Regions from separate parts of the Homo sapiens genome. Here region 2 is linked to region 1. The links come from fine-mapping of genetic effects on gene expression. A gene starts in region 1. The other region holds a variant in brackets. All regions are shown on one strand. Distances are from middle to middle. Region 1 holds the start of CARD8 (caspase recruitment domain family member 8). Region 2 overlaps CARD8 (caspase recruitment domain family member 8).

Evidence for each region.
Region 2: its variant is fine-mapped to the expression of CARD8 in whole blood (TOPMed, PIP 0.93).

The regions. Positions count from the first base shown.
Region 1 is chr19:48,254,153-48,257,185 of GRCh38, reverse strand. CARD8 (caspase recruitment domain family member 8) reads left to right here and starts at 1,274. Exons shown (of 14, transcript NM_001184900.3): 1 at 1,274-1,394. It overlaps CARD8-AS1 (CARD8 antisense RNA 1), which reads right to left and starts at 1,511. Exons shown (of 2, transcript NR_040599.1): 1 at 1,392-1,511; 2 at 1-835. RefSeq lists an enhancer at 1,166-1,405.
Region 2 is chr19:48,233,581-48,236,080 of GRCh38, reverse strand. CARD8 (caspase recruitment domain family member 8) reads left to right here. Exons shown (of 14, transcript NM_001184900.3): 6 at 1,538-1,678. Among named protein-coding and RNA genes, the nearest start is that of CARD8-AS1, 21 kb to the left of the region's middle. The variant A/G (reference allele first, on the strand shown) is at 1,316.

The sequences.
Region 1 (3,033 bases):
TTATAATCATATATATACATTTATTGTATTATATATAATATACAACTGTATATGTAATTGTAATATAATAATTATATACATAATAGTATATGTAATACAAGTATCCAACCAGGAAATTGATGTCAACGTATCTTACCATTACCTAATGTGCAGACCTTATTTGAATTTTGTCAATATTTCTCTTAACGTCCTCTTTCTTCTCCAAGATCGAATCGAGGATCTCACATTGCACTCAGTTGTTATGTCCTTAGATTCCTCCAGGCTGTGACCGTTTCTTATTCTTCCCTTGTCTTTTGTGATTGTGACACTTTTGCTGAGCATGGCCAATTATTTTACAGAATGTTTATCAATTTGGATTTCTTTGATGTTTTCTCACGATTAGGCTGAGGTCATGCATGTTTGTCTTCTGTGTTCAGTCAATATGCCCCATCCTTTTTCAAATATTTCTTCATGTTCTGGCGTCAGAATTTGTTCCAATGTTATCTTATATATTCCTGCCCCAGCCCTCGAAGTAACCATTTCTCCACAGATACTTCAAAATAGTATTTAGAAACCAAGGCCGGGCACAGTGGCTCACGCCTGTAATCCCAGCACTTTGGGAGGCCGAGGCGGGCTGATCTCGAGGTCAAGAGACGGAGACCATCCTGACCAACATGGTGAAACTCCGTCTTTACTAAAAATACAAAAAATTAGCCGAGCGTGGTGGCATGCACCTATAATTCCAGCTACTCGGGAGGCTGAGGCAAGAGAATCGCTTGAACCTGGGAGGCAGAGGTTGCAGTGAGCCGAGATTGCTCCATTACACTCCAGCCTGGGTGACAGACGGAGACTTCATCTCAAAAAAAAAAAAAAGTAATATTGATTAAAAATCAAATTGCATGAGAATGCATAGCAGGATACCAAGCAAATACAACTTTTAAATATTACAGAAAATGATATTTAAAATACAAACCAAATACATAAATCATGCAGGCGGATTAAGACGTTTCTGGATAGTGGTAACAGCTGAGAGTGGCTGGATGAATTCCAGAGAAATTTCATATATTGCTTCAATTTTATTTAAAATATACTATTACCTATGTCTTAGATATTTTATTTTAAATAATGAACAAGGATATTATAAACTCTGCAGAAGTAAGTGTAATCGTGTTTTTTTCCTGCCCACATTAAAGATGGCCCAGATGCTTGCACTGACCCCATTGACTGCCCACAGCCATCATGGCGACCGGAAGTCCTGAGAGCTTACTTCCCTCAGTTCTCAGAAAGCCCACCTCCTCTGCGAGCGTTATTTCAAAAGAAGTTGAGAACCAGAGAAACCGACCTAAGGGGATTCTCCCATTTGGCCCGTCCTACCCTAAAGTCACCACCTGCTGCTTTTCTGGAGCGCTTACCAGGTGAGTTTCAGGAGCCCTAGTGTACAGGAAGGAGAAACGGAGGCTTGTTGGTAGGACACCGCCAGGCTGCTCTGTGTTCTGTTCCTCTTAGTCAGCAAGGAAGGAGTACGACAAAGTGAGAAGTTCATATGAGCGTGTCAGAAGGGGAAATAGGGCCCCTCCCTTGTTAAAAACAAAACCCTCTGGAAGCTCGGCATCCTGTCATAACTTAAATTTATGACTTCAGTGACTTGGCTTGGACAGTCTTAATAATCTCTCTCACACTCAATTTGTTTTAATTTCTGTAATAATAATTTTTATACCAATGTTTATGTTGTTAATACTAATAATTTTACACTGTAACTGTATAACTTTAATTATTAGAAGTGTTAACCTAACTAACAAACATATGAAAGCTTCCTAAGGGAAACAATTTTTTTTTCTTTTTGAGATGGAGTCTCGCTCTGTGGCTAGGCTGGAGTACAGTGGCATGATCTTGGCTCACTGCAACCTCTGCCTCCCAGGTTCAAGCGATTCTCGTGCCTCAGTCTCCCAAGTAGCTGGGACTACAGGCGTGCACCACCACATCCAGCTAATTTTTTATTTTTTAGTAGAGACGGGGTTTCACCATGTTGGCCAGGATGGTCTCCGTCTCTTGACCTCGAGATCAGCCCGCCTTGGCCTCCCAAAGTGTTGGGATTACAGGCGTGAGCCACTGCGCCCAGCCGGAAACAATGTTTATTTGGGAATAGAGCATTGCAATTGGGAATAGACATGCCGTATTAAACTATGTGTATATTCAGGGAGATAAAGGAAGACAGAAATGGGGAGGATTGCATATTGTTTTAACAGAATTTTCCTTGGCTACAAAGATCAGTAACAAGGGTGACATTAGTCCTAGGTTGGACCAGCAGTTGCTGGGCAGCATTCCTTGCAGAAATATATATTTTTTTAAGGTTGTGAAGACCTTTATGTAAGGTTGTGGGTTTTGTAGAGTCTTTTTCATCTTCAGGCATGCAAGGATAAGAGCCCTCTCTTCATGGCCTTCCTGGCTCTATTTGTCAGGGTTATCTTAACATAAGTGACTCCATTTTGTTCTGACAACTTTCAGATTTCCCCTTGTGATCAAGAAGTTTCTCTGAAAGCACTCTCCTGCCTCAGCCTCCCGAGTAGCTGCGACTACAGGTGCCCACCACCACACCCAGCTAATTGTTTTTGTGTTTTTAGTAGAGACGGGGTTTCACTATGTTGGCCAGGCTGGTCTCGAACCCCTGACTTGTGATCTGCCCACTTCGGCCTCCCAAAGTGCTGGGATTACAGGGATGAGCCACCGCACCAGGCCTGCATTTCTTTTTTCAAAGAATTACTGTGGCATTTTTTCCAATGTCATTGTGTTCTGTGGTTCTTATCTAGTCTTCACATTTATTTACATAATGAACTTTCAATGATGGATTTCTACAGAATTTTTGTCACTAAGTGGTTGCCTAGAAGTATATATCCTAAGATTGAACATATTGAAATATGAGCTAACTTTTCTCATTCAATTATTGATTACTTAGTTAGTTTATTTATTATTTGGGGGATGGGATCTTGCAATGCTGCCCAGACCAGACTCAAACTCCTGGGCTCAAACTCCTACCTCAGCCTCCCAAGTAGGTGG
Region 2 (2,500 bases), 21 kb after region 1:
GTGTCCAGTGTGAAAGCCACTGGCCTCACATGGCTTTTTCTTTTTTTAACATACATACTTTAATCAGAATTGCTGAAAAAATATTCAGGATTTTTGCTCTTGTTGTTGATGTTTTTAACAGGCTTAATTTTCCAGCTGAAACCCGATTTTACATTGCAAACAAATGTTCTTTTTTTTTTTTAGACAAAAGTTGTCTTCAGTAATAATTCCTCAGTTATTTTCTTTCTTTTTTTTTGCTTTCCTTTTTTGTCAATGATTTTTTTCTACAGTTTGGTTTTGAACTTACTTCAAAATCTCTCAACAATTGCTTTCACAGATATTCAGCTGATGGAAGTGTTCACTGTTGTAACCTTTTGTGGAGAGTGATTTGGGAATATCTATCAAACAGTAATGCTCAGGCTGGGTGCGGTGGCTCATGACTGTAATCCCAGTGCTTTGGGATGCCAAGGTGGAAGGATTTCTTGGGGCCGGGAATTCAAGACCAGCCTGAGACCTCATCTCTATTCCCTGGAGTCCTCTTCAAAGCAGATTTTGTTGCCAGACGTCCTATGCCTATGTCCATTACCCAGAAAAATTCTTTTAGTTTCACGTGGCTGGGGAGGCCTCACCATCATGGCAGAAGTCAAAGGAGGAGCAAAGGCATGTCTTACATGGTGGCAGGCAAGAGCCACGTGTGGCTTTTGAGCACTTGAAATATGGCTACTTCAAAGGAGGAACTGATTTTCACATTTAACAATTTAAAACTAAATGTAAATAGGCAGGTGTGGCTAGTGGCTGTCATATTGGCCATTGAATATCTTGGCATAAAGGACACTCCATCACTCCTAACCTCAATCTTGATTCCTGCCAGCCATAGGAGGACAGCACCAAGCCTTCAAAAATGAAGAAGAGAAAAGGATCTAGCATAGGACTCTCATGTTCCATATCTGAATAAGGATCCTTGATGGGAAAAGAAAGTGTGTACAATATCCATAATTTTCTTTTTCTGTGAGCATTTTTGTTGCTTTATGCAACCCCTCTCACCATTTGCAGGCAGAAGGGAGAAGAGGAGATAACTGTTCCATGGGTTCTTATAAAACATGCCCAATCTCACTAATGCCCTGCAATCCCAATCATTTTAGGGTCCTATTCTCTCGGGCACCAATTATGGATGAAGGGAGACTACAAATTAGGAATCTCATCCTTTCCCTAAAATTCTTAGCAAGGTTATATAGGTCAACATACTTGTTGACCTATTATGAAACCAATGTTTGTGGCAAATGCTAGATGTTGAGAACTGACTGACGTCTGCTTCCTAGGATGGAAAGAGCAGCAT[A/G]TAGTGGGAAACAGAGAGCCAGTTAAATTTAACATAATGAGATGTAAGAAAGAGTCATGGGAGTCTGAGAGGTGAGATGGAGTCGTAGGGGCCTGAGGAATGACTTCCCTAAGATAAAATATTGAGTCTATGGCTATTAACATAAAATCTTCCTGCACAGCCTATGCTATCATCAGGCACCTACCTTATATTCATAGTAAAAATTCTGTTGTTGTTTTCCAGGGTATACAGGGAGCTACCCTGTGTTTCTGAGACCCTTTGTGACATCTCACATTTTTTCCAAGAAGATGATGAGACAGAGGCAGAGCCATTATTGTTCCGTGCTGTTCCTGAGTGTCAACTATCTGGGGGGGACATTCCCAGGTAAGAAAAGCTATTCCGTTGGAAAACTATTGGACGCTGTGTCTCAATATCACAGAGGAACATGAGAATTAGAGGAATTTGGGTGTTTTTCATCGAACTCAGGGGAGAATGAATGAGCTTATGCAATACTAGCAATGAATCCAGAAATTTTTGAAACAAACCTTAAGCAATGAGGTTTTCTTCCATGGAGGTGTCTAGAGAACCTATACACAAAAAGGCAATGAGCAATGCAATCGAAGACCAGTGGGTTATTGGTTAAGCTGTTACTCAATACATAAAACCAACCTAATTCTCTAGGAAACTGGCTGATGATGAGGCTGAAGGCCACAGTGGGGTCCTGAGGTTTAACACCGGGGAGGGGAGAATGCGTCTATTTGTAGGGTATGCCAATTTCCAAGGGTTGAATATCCCCATCATGGCAGATTTCAAACTACCAACGTGAAGCCCCTGATGAGGGAGTTGAAAGAACACATGCAGAAGTCTGTCATCCTGCTTTCACCACACAGATACAAGAGACATAAATAACCTCAAGGGCATAGACTGCTGAAAAGTGTAGAAAAATGACTGGAAATTGGTATGTTTTAATATGTATTACTTTTGTTTTTAATATGATTTATTTAAATGTTAGCTTGTATCATTTAATTTAGACTAATGGTTGTGTTGAACAACTTGGTTGCAAAAGCCCTGAAAATGGAACCGTCAGCTCTCATGATCTGGGATGCGCTGTCTGCAGTTCAGCGCTGGGTTCCTCCCACTTTCTAAACCCCTCCTCAGCAGGCAGACTCCAGCATGCACATGCACCAGGAAAGAGAATATAAAATG